Regions from separate parts of the Homo sapiens genome. Here regions 2 and 3 are each linked to region 1. The links come from fine-mapping of genetic effects on gene expression. A gene starts in region 1. Each other region holds a variant in brackets. All regions are shown on one strand. Distances are between the middles of the regions. Region 1 holds the start of VIT (vitrin). Region 2 overlaps VIT (vitrin). Region 3 overlaps VIT (vitrin).

What was found. PIP is the estimated chance that this variant, and not a neighbour inherited with it, causes the effect. A credible set is the group of variants that fine-mapping cannot tell apart.
Region 2: its variant is the best candidate, but not a certain one, in a credible set for the expression of VIT in tibial nerve (GTEx, PIP 0.86).
Region 3: its variant is the best candidate, but not a certain one, in a credible set for the expression of VIT in tibial nerve (GTEx, PIP 0.74).

Annotation. Positions count from the first base shown.
Region 1 is chr2:36,694,774-36,700,003 of GRCh38, reverse strand. VIT (vitrin) reads right to left here and starts at 3,297. Exons shown (of 16, transcript NM_053276.4): 1 at 3,031-3,297. The region is part of intron 2 of LOC124905990 (a long non-coding RNA gene); the gene reads left to right.
Region 2 is chr2:36,764,395-36,769,624 of GRCh38, reverse strand. It overlaps VIT (vitrin), which reads right to left. Exons shown (of 16, transcript NM_053276.4): 7 at 2,340-2,531. It overlaps LOC124905990 (a long non-coding RNA gene), which reads left to right. Exons shown (of 3, transcript XR_007086283.1): 2 at 4,890-4,993. Among named protein-coding and RNA genes, the nearest start is that of VIT, 70 kb to the right of the region's middle. The variant G/T (reference allele first, on the strand shown) is at 2,828.
Region 3 is chr2:36,754,387-36,759,616 of GRCh38, reverse strand. It overlaps VIT (vitrin), which reads right to left. Exons shown (of 16, transcript NM_053276.4): 5 at 4,563-4,696; 6 at 571-648. The region is part of intron 2 of LOC124905990 (a long non-coding RNA gene); the gene reads left to right. Among named protein-coding and RNA genes, the nearest start is that of VIT, 60 kb to the right of the region's middle. RefSeq lists an enhancer at 5,091-5,230. The variant A/G (reference allele first, on the strand shown) is at 3,044.

The sequences.
Region 1 (5,230 bases):
ACTGATCAAACCTCTTTGCCACAGCTCTGTGGGGTAGGCAGTAGTAATAGACCCATTTTATAGATGAGAAAACTGAGGCCAAGAGACTTTAAGTAACTTGCCAAAGTTAACACATTGAAAAAGTAACAGCTTTCCGCCTAACACCCACATGACCCATAGCACAGGAAGGTCCATTTTTGCCTTGACCTCGCATGTAAGGCTTTAAATTAAGGCATTTGACATTCTTTCCGAATGGGGTTATATTGACAGTCACAGAAATACAGCAGAAAGCTGAAAAAAGTCTTTCATACAACTTGGACCCACAGTCTCCAGTACACTATGTATATGTGTGTGCATATCTATCTATCTATCTATCTATCTATCTATCTATCTATCTACCTATATATCTATCTATATCTATATCTATATCTATATCTATAATCTCCTCTAATCATCTTCTGAAGAATATGGAGACATCTATATATATGTGTGTGTATATATATATATAACCCCCTCTAATTGTCTTGTGAAGAATATAATTATGTCAAATTTCATTTTTGTATACATGTAAGTCTCTGGTTAGGTAAACATGCATATTTAAAATATACCATAATTTTCATAGCACTATTTCGATACTTCTTCATTTAGCAATGTACAGAGAGTCTCAACAGTGAAATTTTCCTGGCCACATTTTGACACTGGAGAGGTCCCAGTGCATAGAACCATAGGATTGAGAGGGAAGCTTAGAGACTATCTTGTGTAACTTCTTCATTTCGTATGTGATGAAATAGAGATGGAGACATTGAGTAACCTCTCCAGTGCACCATGGCTAAATGCCCTTCTACTGACAGACAGGCCCATTGTGTTCTGTCTTGTCCCCACTGCTGCTGATGCTTGGCTCACACCTCCAAGTGTTAGCAAGGAGAGGGGAAGTTGCACATGTGGACACAGCATCATGGGAACATGTTGGGGGCCATGAAGTTTTTATTATATAAATGCTTTCTAAAGTAATCTTTTTTTTTTTAATATGTGGGGAATAAAAGATTACATTTCTTTTCTTTTCTTTTCTTTTCTTTTTTTTGAGACCAGGTCTCACTTTGTTGCCCAGGCTGGAGTGTAGTGGCGTGATCTCAGCTCACTGCAACCTCTGCCTCCCAGGTTCAAGTGATTCTCCTGCCTCAGCCTCCCGAGTAGCTGGGATTACAGGCACCCGCCATCATGCCTGGCTAATTTTTGTATTTTTGGTAGAGATGGGGTTTCACCATGTTGGCCAGGCTGGTCTCGAACTCCTGACCTCAGGTGATCCACCCACCTCGGCCTCCCAAAGTGCTGGGATTACAGGTGTGAGCCACTGCGCCAGGCCAAGATTACATTGCTATAGAAGTTTTGACATTTCAAAACTCCTTTGGAGCTGAGAACCACTATTGACCCTTGTGGCCGCCCTGGGAGGGAGGGTGTACAGGCATTGCTATTTCTGTTTTCCAAAGAGAGAAACAAAAGTCAAGAAATGTTATATATGTTTTCCAAGGTAATAGGTAGTGGCAGAGCTGTTACTATAATTTAGGACTCCTGGCTTGGCGCATGCATTGAACCATACTGCTTTCCTGTATTCAATGTGTCTTATAGGAATCATAGCTGAGAACCATTCTCAAACCTCATGTATTTTCTCTGAAAGAAACTATTCTTCATGTGATCAGTAACTTGGTGGAAAAGACAGATCTTCTTAACAATATTCATGAATTAAACAGTTTTAGGATAGATATTAAGCATTTCCAATCTTCCTAAGGTATTTTTATTTTTTTTAGTGGTGAGGCATAAGATATATTTAAATGAAGCTTAGTCTGGGAAACCAGCATATTGCAATAAAAAAATGCAAGTCTTTGCAATCTTGTAATTCTTTGTCTAAAGCTTTTTGTACAAAAGAGGGTATTTTAATTCAATAAATAAAAGATGGGCACTTCCAGCTCTCCTACCAGCACTAGCTACCACTTGCAGCTAACACACATAGAGAGAAAATACACAAACAAACAGTGTTTGATCCTGCTTTGCTGCAGGGTGTTTTCATCTTTCAAGAGACCAAGGGAAAAACAACCTCAGAACTTTACCACCAAAACTTCCAAATTTATTGCAACACAACGTAACGGCAAAATACTATTTTCTTAGCACACGCAATTTTGAGCAACCACCACGGCCAAGAATGCTTGTTTTTATTTTTACAATAAGTCCAAAGAAAATTTTTAATTCCACTCTTGATTTAGGAATGGCAAAGATGCTGTGGGTTGTTTGGAGAAAACTGTCATGTCTAATTATTCAGTCTTATCCTCTCTCTTTAACCTGTGCTTGAGGCGTTTATTTCATGTTTATACTAGTTGGACACAAATCATACTTAAAAGAGATTTCATATCCTGTCTTCCTGTGAAAAGCTGAGCTACGATGGCAGACTTAACAATGCCAGCCCCTTGTTGGGCTTATCAGTAACAGAAGCATTCAGCCTAAGAAAACACTTTAAGTGTAAACAAGACACAGAATCGCACATCTAGCCACATTCCACTGAAATCTGTCTGAATAGAGAGAAGTAGAGATCCACACGAAATAGTTTCTCTTTTAAGTTAGCACCAATGTGCCCATTTCTCATACTGCCATTCACAATCTTTATAAGCAATTTGCTATATTGCTATTACATTCCACATATTCCAAGCAAAGTTTTTAAAAAAGCAAGATAATAGAGACTTAAATTACTTTAAAATTCTACACAAATGTCATACTTTTCAACTTATTTGTAACCATAATTAAATTGGTTTAAAGGAACAGTAAAAATCTTGTTATAATATTAATATCAATGCAGTTTATTTATAATTGATAAATATATATGTATATTACTAGTTGTTTACAAGGATGCCAAGTACCATCCACTTTCATCTCAACTCTCTTGAAACTGAAATTTGCTTACTCGGTCAAGCTTTGTATTGTAGTTTCTTAAAGACAAATACGTTTCAATGATAATGAATGGAAAGTAACTATATACACAGCTTAGAAATTCATCAGACATACCTTGTTTGAAGAAGGCAATTTTTTTTTCAAAAAATTTTCACCACACAGAATGAATATTCTTTTTCCCTTAGGCTTTCCTGCATCACAAATCCCATCCAAATTATTCTAAGGAAGAAACAGGGAGAGGTCCAAGAACCTTTTCTCTTCTTCTCAGAGGAGCTAATCGAACAGTCCCATCAACCTCTCAGTACTTTGAAAAACACATTTTACACCCCCCCCCACACACATACACACACACACATGCTCACACATACTGCTTCTCACACTGGTTTTAGTGCTGAATTAGGCGGTCCTCTTTCAAATTTCCACTCCCACTGCTTTTTTTTTTTTTTTTTTTTGTAAGGATTTCTAAATATTCTTTTGTAGCCCAAAGCACAAACTTTCAGTAAGCAAATTCTACAATTTGACATTCTAAAAAGTAGAGGAGGACCACTTAGATAAAAATGGAAAGTAAAAGATATGTTTTAAAAATTACTTCAGCAGGGGCAATTCAATTTTTTCTTTCTTTTTCAAAAGCTAGTGAACAGCTGGACTGAACTGCACAAAGAAGGAAAACTGTGCAAACACTCTCAAACTTATTCTACTGGACTCCCACTTTTGAATTGAAAATATGTACTTTTTCCTACATATTAATGCTATTTTTTTGTTTTGTTTTGCTTCAGTCCTTTCTGCGTTTTGGCAAGTTTTATGAAATGACTCAATTATATGCTGGTAGTTACAGGACACAAGATAATCATAGTGGGAAGCAAAACCTGACTCATGTTTCAAAAAAAATACTGATGAATAATCTCACATGAAATCTGCCAGTTTTAGTTATTTATATATTAGTGTCATCAATGAAATCTAAGAGATTCAGATTCAAAATGTGTATTAACGTATCACATCATTAAAAAAAAATCAGACCAAAAAAAAGTACATCTGGCAGATCTTGAGATTCCAGTGTCCATCAGTGTGGCAGAGCATCTGTTTTCAAGCACAGGAGAAGGTAGCAAAGAGTCATTCCTCCTCCTGCTGGGGAGTGTGCACTCACGCAGCTAGGGAGGAGAACCTTCTTCCATTCGAGAAGCCTCCTGTCCTCATCTGTTGGCCCTGGAACTGCTCCTTATTTAAGATAATTGTTTGACAGATCTTGTGCTCTAATGCCAAGTTATACATGGGATGATTGCTGGCACGTCTTCATTGGCTATATAAAATGTGGCCGAGAAGATAGGCTCTCACGGTAAGAAGTCTGTGTTGATTAGGAGTAACTTTGGCCCAGCTCTCTGGTCTAAAGCTCTCAAATGTGACTATGTGAATCTGGGTGGGATTCATCTGCTCAATGCCATTGTGCAGAGATGCATAAGCTTTTTAATGCTATAAAACATGGTAGCTGAAATTAAATGCCACTTTTTCAGAGGTGAATTAATGAAGAGCCTGATGAAATTCAAAGCTTTTTGATGTATAAAACTTGATAAATGGAATGATTCCATCAATAGGCGAAGTGTAGCAAGCTATCTAGATGGATAGTATGTAATTTCTGCACAGGTCACTGTTAAATAAATACATCACTGTACACTGATCAGGAATCTTCCTCCATTAAAGGAACATGAAGACTAAAAAAAGGGAGATAATGATTTGAATGTTATTTAATCATTTTTACCCTTACTTCTTTTGGTTCTGCAATGAAATTATTTCTCAATCCTCTTTATTCCTCCACTAAATTCTGAGCCCAGGTTCTTTGGTGGTAAGGATGATAATGCTGTAACACTGAGGATCCCCTGTCCTACCACTTGAATTAGGGCAGGTTCAGAATGGCAGCCTAAGCATAATTCATAATCACATTATTCCTAATACTACTACTACTAATGCTGCTGGACTCGGTGGCTCAAGCCTGTAATCCCAGCACTTTGGGAGGCCGAGGCAGGCAGATCACCTAAGGTCAGGAGTTCAAGACCAGCCTGGCCAACATGGTGAAACCCCATCTCTACCAAAAATACAAAAATTAGCCAGGCGTGTGATGGCGGGTGCCTGTAATCCCAGCTACTCGGGAGGCTGAGGCAGGAGAATCACTTGAACCTGGGAGGTGGAGGTTGCAGTGAGCCGAGATCGCACCACTGCACTCCAGCCTGGTTGACAGAGCAAGACTTGGTCTCAAAAAATAATAATAATAATAATAATAATGCTAGTTGCTGTTTATCAAATACTTACTTTTACTAAGGAC
Region 2 (5,230 bases), 70 kb before region 1:
AGGCCTTCAGAAACTCCTTTGAATAGGCAATACAACTTTTAAAAAGCTCTCCCCGCTTCCCCAGTTTGGTTCCTATCCTAGCCATTGTGGTGCATGCTTCATGGCTTGCTTGCTCCGAGCGTTTGTCTAGCAGTCTGTGGATCACCATAGAAGTGGGCTCTGGACAAGGATGAAGAAGGAACACTGATGGGCCAGGAGGCTGTTGTCCAAAGCTCCTGTTCCCAAGCCAGGAATAAAGAAGCTTTGCCAGGTTAGGAGCCACTACTTCAAGTTTCTTAGGTTTTCCACCAGCAGAGCCCAACTTGCAACAGATTTCCAAGCTCCCAGCGTAGCCAAATAAATATGCCACATGTTTAATTATATGTGTTATGTAAGAATTTAAAGTCCTCTAAGGAGAAAACAGGAGCAAACAACTAACTCAGATACTCAAAAATCTTTGAAAGAATCAAGGCATCTGAAGTCAAGAGCCTGAAATTTTAGAAAGGAGAACTTCTGGCTACAGAACCCCTGTTAACCCTTGCCATCCAGCATCCTTCCTGTTTCTCTTTTGCTGTCAAGTATTGTGCACCTGTGTTAATATTATCCTGAGTTAAACAGGAACAGAATGGTGGAGGAGTGTTTGATGTATTTCAGAACACCAAAAATTCTTTTTGCGGTATTCTTATTCTGGGACTTTATATCATAGCTTCTTCAAAGAGTCGTCCATAAAATAGCATAATAATAATTCTTATTTCAAAAAGTTATTGGGAAGATTAAATAAGATAATACATGCAGTATACCTGGTAAATGAGATATATGTACTACATGCATTCTGTTATTATTAATTCAAGAAGAAGTTGGCTGTGCTGAGCACCTTTTAATTTTGCCATACTAATCATGCCAAAATGTGCTCTGCCTGGGCCTGGGGTGTTCATTTTTGGCAGGGATGCTCCCCTGCAAGGAAGAGGAGAGCCAGGCTGCTGGAGTTTGAATTCCAGTTCTGCCACTTCCCAGCTGTGTAGGCTGGAACCAGTTTCCTCACTGCCTTACTCCTTGGTTTCCTCATCAATACAATGGATTATTGAAATTGGAAGTCATAAATCTACTTCATAGGGTTGTTACGGAGGATTCAATAGGCTAATATTTGTAAGGTGTTCAGAAGATGGGCTAGCATATTCAAAGTGCTGATTTGCATTTTTATTTATTTATTTATTGAAACGGAGTCTCTTTCTGTCACCCAGGGTGGAGTGCAGTGGTGCGATCTCGGCTCACTGGAACCTCTGCCTCCCAGGTTCAAGCGACTCTCCAGCTTCAGCCTCCCAAGTAGCTGGGACTATAGGCACGTGCCACCACACCTGGCTAATATTTGCATTTTTAGTACAGATGGGGTTTCACCATGCTGGCCAGGCTGGTCTTGAACTCCAGGCCTCAAGTGATCTGCTTGCCTCGGCCTCCCAAAGTGCTGGGATTACAGGCGTGAGCCACCGCTCCCAGCCTGATTTGCATTTTTTAAATAAGAAGATGGATAGGTAGGTAGCTGGCCTCTGCTATGGGAGCGGAGAGGGGGAAGGGTCATGCTATGTGGCAGTAGTGACTGCAAGCTGGAGGCGAGCCTGAAAAGAACAAGTCCAGAGCACTTCCTCCTGGAAGGAAAAAGTGGCACCAGGTGGGAAATATTCAGAAAACATTGCTAAGACAATAGTGGAACTCCAGCTGCAGAAGTTTTCGCCCCCTTGCTAGAAAAGTTCTGGAAGTGAGATAGATGCTTATTAACTTAGGATGGTGTAGATATAAGTCTGTGCAGAAATGAGATCAGATGATCAGATGGGCTCCTTAGGCCCTATTTGATGTAGTACGAGATGAAGTCCATAAACTGGACCTTGATAAAACCTTCAACATGATTTGAGCAATGGGTAAAAGTAGTAAGACAAAAAACCATCAGAAAAGGAACAAAAACATTAGCTGACTTTTCCTAAAGGGATTCTTTTGGTTTTGTTTGCTTTTAATATTTGAAGACTTCCAAGTCTGTACCATTTGTCACTTAAAAACCAATAACAACAACAATAAACCCCAACAATGTTTACATAGAAATCTACCATCCCTTCAACTGAGCTTTTGGAGAAATGAAGATTTTGCAATGGGAAAGTATTCTATCTTCAGAAGTACGGTGACAGCAGTCTTATTTTTGAATCTACATCCTCCCTTGAATCTAGGAGGAGGACACAAATAACATACCCCCGGCCCAGTTCTCCAGTGCTCCCCATTCACCCAGCCCAGTAGATGCTCAGACAGAGCTGTTACTCTAAAAGCCCAATTTCCCATTTCCCTAGCACAAAGCAACACATGGTCTACCTACTGACCCATCTCCTGGCTCCTGTGGCCCACTGATTGTGGTCTGGGGATGCTGGTGGTAGAAGCAGCAGAAGGGGATGGCCTTGGCAAGGTGGTGGGGGTGGCCACAGCTACAGTGACAGCCAGAAGCTGCATCAGAGTGACCGGCTGTGCAGTTGTCCCTGGAATAGGTGGCCTCTGATAGGCTTTTGTGGTCTCACCTGTAAGAAAATGGAATTATACCAAGGCCCACAAAATAACCTGTACACTCTTATAGAACTAGAAATAAAATAAATGTTGATTGAACACTAGCTATGAGCACAGAGCTGTGCTAGCCACGGTGAAGGGTGAAACCCAGGTAACAGCCACATTCTTGCCTGAAAGAATGTATGCTCTCAGAGCAATCACTCAATCAACCAAAGATTCAATAGCAATAAAATAAATGACAGGTCAAAACTATAGCAACATAGAACATAGACAAGGCAGAACATGATTAATTGCTGAATTAATTTGCCTG[G/T]CACCACTAGCAATGGTTTATGTACATTTTTTTTTGTTTTTGTTTTTTGCTGATTTGATTAGCATTGGCCTTGGAATAGAAGACAGAAGGTGCATTTGGGGCTTTCATTATGACCTAGTCTTAGAGAATACGTTTTAGATGCGCTGGTTTAGGTTGGTTCATGACTAGTCAACTCTTCTGGGCCCCAGTTTCCTAATCTGTAAAATGGGGTAATAGAACTACCTGGATGGCAAGGATGATCCAGATTCTACATTTTTTTTCTTTTTTGAGACAGGATCTTGCTCTGTCACCCAGGCTGCAGTGCAGTGGCACAATTATAGCTCACTGCAGCCTCGAACTTCTGGGGTACAGTGATCCTCCCACCTAACCTCCCAAGTAGCTGGGACTACAGGTGCAAGACACCATACCTGCCTAATTTAAAATTTTTTTTTTGTAGAGAAAGCATCTTCCTGTGTTGCCTAGGCTGATCTTGAACACCTGGCCTCAAACAATTCTTCCATCTCAGCCTCCCAAAGCTCTGGGATGACAGGTGCAAGCCACTGTGCTCGGCCTAGATTCGACTTCTAAATGGTGCTCTTCATCCACGTGTGATGATTTAGATCACTTCTCTCCTTTTAAACACCGCTGTAGTTGGCTCCCTATAAAGCAAGTCTCAGTTTGTTAGTGCTCTGAGAATATCTCTGAAGGTTTAGAGCAAGGGGACAAGTGGCTACCCACTGGGCATTGGGGTTTGTCTTGAGAACTGTGAGTTCTCAGGGAGACACACAGTGGCCCCCAAAGTGAACAGCTCCTCGGTCCTGGGAAGGAACAACCCACTGTTGCTTGTGCCTGCTGGGCCCCATTGGGGCATGCCAGCTTCTGTCCCTGTGTACCTGTATCAGCTGCTAGGGCTGCTGTAACAAACTACCACAAACTGGGTGGCTTAAAATGACAGAAATTTATTCTCTCACAGTTCTGGAAGCCAGAAGTCAGACATCAGCATCACTGGGTCAAACTCAAGGTGTCAGCAACACTGAGCTTTCTCAGGAGGCTATAGGGTAGACTCTGTGTCTTGCCTCTTCTGCTTTCTGCTGACTGCTGGCATTCCTTGGCTTGTGGCCATGCCACTTTAGTTTTCAAGGCCAGCATCTTCAGTTGTTTCTCTGCTCCGTCGTCATATGACCTCTGATATGGTTTGGGTCCGTGTCCCCACCCAAATCTCATCTCAAATTGTAATCCCCATAATCCCCACCTGTCAAGGGAGGGATGAGGTGGAAGGTGATTGGATCATGGGGGCGGTGTCCCTCATGCTGTTTTCATGATAGTGAGTGAGTTCTCACAAGCTCTGATGGTTTTATAAGGCAGTTTTTCCTCTCTCTCTCTTTCTCTCTCTCTCTCTCTCTCGCCTGCTGCCATGTAAGACATGCCTGCTTCCCCTTCTGCCATGATTGTATGTTTCATGAGGCTTCCCCAGCCATGTGGAACTGTGAGTCAACTAAATCTCCTTTGTTTGTAAATTACCCAGTCTTGGGTAGTGTCTTTATAGCAGTGTGAGAACGAACTAATACAACCTCCTCCTCTATGGATGTGAAATAATCTCCCTCTGCCTTCCTTTTACAAAGATGCCAGTGATTGCATTTAGAGCCCACCTGGGGAATCCAGAATAACCGCCCCGTCACGATCTCAGGATCCTTAATTTAATCACATTAGCAAAGGCTCCCCACATTTTTTCCATATAAGGAAACATTCAATGGTTCCAGGGATTAGGACATGGATATCTTTTCCAGGGTGTTTTTCAGCCTACCACAGCATCCCAGCTCTGGCCTTAACTCTGCTTGGGGTTGATACATTTTTGTTACACAGCACAGCAGACCAAGAAGATAGCATCTGAAATAAGAAGGTGCTTCTGTCTTGGTGGGAACCATCCACCTTCCCCTTTGACATTGTATAACATCCAGGAAAATAGTGCCAGAATCATAGTCCTGGACAAGTGATGCAAACAAATGTGTGGTGGGGTGTTTAGACCCACCGCCAACAGCAGCACCTGCTCATTTCCCCACCCTGACTCTGCCGTCTTTTGCAGGAATCACAGCACTGACTTAAGACAGCAGGTCAGCAAACAGTATTCCTGGAATCGGGTTGGAATTCAGCCATTCGGTCTGCTCTTGCAGGCATTAGCTGGTCAAGGTAGGAAACCGATCTTTCAATTGCCTTGTTTCTTGCTAAGTTGGTCACCTTTAAATTTGCCTGTAGCCTGTGTCAGACAAATCACTAAAGAGCTCACAGCAGCCTCCTTCAAGCCATCCTCAGGCAAAAGTGAATCTGCCTGATTTATGACATTTCCATTATTTTAAAGAGTTTGAGCTTTCATAACAAGTACTAGGGAAGTTTCTAATTTCTCCAAAGTACTTCTCCGTCTTACCC
Region 3 (5,230 bases), 60 kb before region 1:
ATGCATAGTACAGTTCTTGATTTAACACAGAAACCTGGAAAAAGGTATTTTCTTGGCCTGAGGTCTACCGATACTCCCTTTTGTGGTTCACATGAAAGCTGAGTTGGCACAACCTTGTAGACAGTGTATTTTTGGCCTGGGTTATTTGGATGAGCAGCTTGCTGTTATCACATAAACCACCTCGTTCTCTTTGCTTCTCTTCATTTCATATCTAAGTAGATACAGCTTTTTCCTTTTAGCTGCCAGGAAACATTTCCGGACAGAATGTCATGTCATTTTCTAAAGCAACAATACATTAAAACTCAAGGCAACAGTCAATCTGAATGAAAATGACACAAATATAGAGACACAATCTCGGAATTGCAAAAACAAAAAATAAAGCTTTCATTCTTCAGCCCCAGCCATCTGATCTCATTGATTTCTGTGCCCATGTTCCTGGCATCTGTTAAAATATTGCCAGAGCCAGTGGAGCTTGACCGGTTAAGATGTTAATTTCTCCGCTATCTCCCAAAACACGTCGCGTGTTCATGGACTCAGAAGGTTTAGATTCAATCACACGTGAGCACTTGCCTGCTTGGGCAGCTGGACTTTTCGATGATGAGTATGTAAGAGCTGATGGGTAGGTTACACCCTTTTTGGGTTTACTTTCTGCAAAAAAGAGAAAAAAAAAACGAGATTTATTTCTAGAGCTAGAGGTTTTAGATGGTTCTGTACTAAGTTGATTCTGTCCTTTCAATTTATCTCTCTTCAGTTCAATAAAATCAGTCTCCCTCATGCTGAATAGTTGATTACAATGAGAATGTCATGTGGCATTTTGTTTTCCTGTATAGCTTGTGTTTTATTACTATTAGAATGGAAGCAACCAACTCTCCATGATTCAGAGTTGCTTAACATCAGCAATCCTTCTTTCACCCGTGAAGATGTGACATGGAAGTGAAGGTTTTTATCTGTGTGGCTTCGAATGTTTAATTGTATCAGTAGGTGAACGGGAAAGCCCTCCACATGCTCTCCTTTGAGATGATGGAGTGCTCCGGTCATAGGCTCACTTTCACAGACCGTGTGGGATTCATTTGAATTTCATAGCAGTAGTAAAACCTAAAAGTAGGTAAATATAGGTCAACCTTGAAAATAACCATGTGTTGCTCACCCAGGGGGAGACACGGTAGCTAGCAGGCAAGGAAGAGGAATGGTAACGTCTATTAGGGAAAAAAATAAGCATAAAAAAATTGCCAAAGTCTTCTTCTGACCATAAAAGGACGCCTGAAATTCCACCATATGGTCTTTGTTCCACAAGTAAAGTGAGAATGCCACTGGAATACAGTAAGCCCCCTGAAGGCAAGTCATTTTTCTGACTTGGTAACGGTTGAATTTTCAGAGCTCAAAGCAATTTGTTCCTGGCGTGAAGCAGTTGCTCAAGAAGTATTTATTCAGTGGGGGAATATCTTAAAGCTTAGATCTCTGTTAAAATTAAAATACCTTGGTAGGGGTACTACCTGTTAGCCAATATTACATCTAGTAATGAAAGCATTTCTTCTCCCATCTGGAGGGAATACTTTTACAGGATGCGAAGATGGTAAGCAGTGTGGCACAGAGAACCTAGGTGGGTGGAGGAGGATCTAGGGCACTATCTTGCCAACCATCCTGCTGGCACAGGAATCGTAGGGTCATGAAGCAGAAAGAATAGCAGGGTCTAGGTAAGAACCTAGGATTAGGAGTAAGACAATCTAGGTTTCTGTTTCTGTTTTACCTTTAATTAACTGCCCCAACCTTTGAGGCTCTTGTGTTTTCATTCACAAAACAGGAATAATGACACGGCCCTGCTTACTACACAAGATTGTAGACATCTAATGGAAAAAATGTTAAAATGTTTTGGAACTATGTATCTCCATAGAGATGCAAAAATTTCTTCTGGTGTTACCTATAAATGCCACGTGTTTGGGCTTACTTGCATTACTTTACCTCATTAGAATCACCTGGGGAACAGGACTGGCATTTCCAAGTCCTCCACCAATGTCAAGGCCTGCTCCAAATGACAATGACTGAGGTTATTTTAGGCCCAGAGAGGGCCCCATGGCTGTGGGCCACACTTTATCTGCAGAAAGCGAGGAAGAGACATCTTCTCTATTTATTGATCTAAAACGTGATTTTTTTTTCTGTTTCTATTCAGAAGGAAAAGGAGCATGAGCTCAGTTCCCTGAAATGTGGATCAAAGGATAAAAGGGAAGTATTAGGGGGTCCCTCACTGACATTTCATATCCCTGGACTGTGTAAAGATCATGCGGGCCGTAAACGTACATCTCCTCTTTTGCTCCCCCTCTTAGCTCACCAAAGTGAATTAGTTAAGGAGCTCAGGGGCATATGAAAATTAGAAATAAAAACCTAGAGAAAGATCATGGTGGCACCTGAGCCTTCAGAAGAGGATTCGGACATCATGCAGTTAAACTTGCTGGCCATGAACCTCTGGATAATGGGAAGCATTCCTTGGCTGCCAGTCAGTTATCAATGCTTATGCTGCAGTGAGCTCCTAACTCATCCATTCGAGAGAGGCTTCCAAGCCATTGCAGAAGCACAAATGTTTATTATCATTGGCAAAAAGTATTTTCGGTTAACTGTCACTAGGTCGAATGAGGGGAGATGGAAGTCGAGATTTATAGGGAATAATATCAGCAGATTGATTTTCACTTAAAAAGCCCAAAACATCTCTACTGCCATAGAATTAATTTTTCTTTTAAACCTCTGTTGAGATTCTTGGATTGCAGACTGAGCACTTAAGGCTGAAATGCTCTTATTCAGCCAGGATCTACTTGGTGAACACCTATGCGGAGATTATATTTCTCTCTGTCTCAACATATTTGTATTCGAGACATTAGCATTTTTATATGGCTCCCGTTGTGAATTTTTTGTTACAAGGCAAAAACCCCACAGTACTGCGGTTGATACCCTTCCGCTATCTGACAAAGAAACCAGTCTAATTTGAACTGTGGGCGTGTAGAATTTGGCAGGCAAAAGGAAACATGGATTGCTCAAGTTGAGAAGAATAGTA[A/G]AAGGTCTGTTTGTTGTCCTGCTAACGACTCTAATCAGTGGAGGACGGTAGGGGCTTGAGGCATGGGGTGCCTAGCAGTGCTAGAAAACCACCCAGATTGGAAGACCTACTGTTTTATGAAACATTTCTCTCTTCCCTGTTCAGCTAGTTTTCTATAAGTGACTCCTTCTCAGGACAGTCCCAAGGCACCTAATTTTGTTGGGAGGCCAGGAAGTTGGCTACAATCTAGTTTAAAATCCCATGGAACCGCCTTAGAGAAAATGGGAGATTCAGGTTTAGAGTAGGGTACGTATAAGGTGAGTATAGAACACTGTTAGGCTGGGCGTGGTGGCTCATGCTTGTAATCCCAGCACTTTGGGAGGCCGAGGTGGGCGGATCACCTGAGGTCAGGAGCTCGAGACCAGCCTGACAAACACGGAGAAACCCCGTCTGCACTAAAAATACAAAAATTAGCCGGGCATGGTGGCACATGCCTGTAATCCCAGCTACTCGGGAGGCTGAGGCAGGAAAATCGCTTGAACCCAGGAGGCAGAGGTTGCGGTGAGCCGAGATCGTGTCATTACGCTCCAACCTGGGCAACAAGATTGAAACTCCGTCTCAAAAAAAAAAAAAAAAAAATACTGTGTTGTCCTCAAGCACTACCGTGAACATGTCAAAAGCTTGAAGGGCTCCCACTGGGCAATCTCAGAAAATATGAGCACCAAAAAGAAAAATAAAGATAATAGATGATAACATTATATTTTTAAAAACAATCTATGAATCCATAGTCCACTTAAAAATAATAGGTGCAGAGGGGGAAAGCAACTCTTCTTTATATAAGAACACTAGCTAACAAATGTGGAAGGAATGACAGAATTAGAAAAAATTATAATTTTGCAATTACTAATGTAATACTTGTTACAGTGAGGATCGGCAATGGATGTTAAAATCACTGGGTGAAATTTGTTGGGGAACAAGCTACTCGAGCATGTTAAAGCATTACCCTACAGATGCTTATTAATTACGGGGTATCTTTGCCATGGACAGATATGGTAAAATATCCAGTGAATCAAACTTAGCATCACCAACAATGGAACAGACTGCCATTATATGCCTCTTGATATGGCCATTGTGTATGACACAATGGATTTGCTGTGACAATACCTATCTATCCACTTAACAGAAATCTCAAGGAATAAGGTTCTAGACATGAGGCACATTTGGCATAACTAAAGGACTGGTTTAAAAACCCAAGCTATTAAATGTAATTAATGTAATTAAAAATCTGATTGGACTTACAGATAACTGCAGTGTAATTAAAACAAGCATGTGGAGCCTTTTAGTATTTTCAGATATGACTTTGTGGTGATTTATCATGTAATTCTAATTTATTGTGTCGTGATTCTAATTATCAGAAAAACGAATGCTTCAGATTTTTATGAAATGAGGTGGGCCATAAACAAAAACCAACAGCACAATGAAAAGAGCACATTTCATCTTGTGGTAGGTTTAGCAGCGTTTCTCCAGTGTGTGGTCATACCTAAGACGATAAAGGATTCTCTCCATCGTGGTAGGGATAACGATTGGACACCGTTGGAATAACTCCCTTTGTAACCAGACTGTCCAGCAACCTTCCGAACAAGTATTTTCCCTCCTGAATTATCAAGCACACCACTATGAAGAGAAAAAATAATTTTTCAGGAAAGAACAGAAATATTTTTTGACGTGATCAACAGGCTAGAAAACCAGTCGCCATCTTTATTTACACATAGGAAAGCAGCAAGGTTAAGCAAAGTTTACCTTGACATGAAGCCCAACCCACAAGAATGGTGCCTCCACCAGCAGACCCAGCATCTGAGCTCCCAGGGTCAATGTCCTTCTCTTTCTTCTTATAGGAGCTGATTGTTCTGTCAGGGATTTCTTTTTGCCACCATGCCTCAGATTTCTTTTCCTTGGTTTTCTCATTCCCACTAGCTCTTTTAAGTAAAGCCTCTTTCTTGACAGTTTCCAATTTGGTTTTGTGATGGCACAGAATGAATTTAGTTATTCCAAAGGGTGATATAAAATGATGAAAAGTAAACACTCCTTTTTTTTTGGGTCAGGGAGGAAAGCTGTGCAGCTAAGTTAAACTCATTAAAAAAGCATCCCCCAAAGATGGAAAATTGTTTCTTTAAATTTCTGGGATTTTGCCAGGTTTTAGATCCTGAT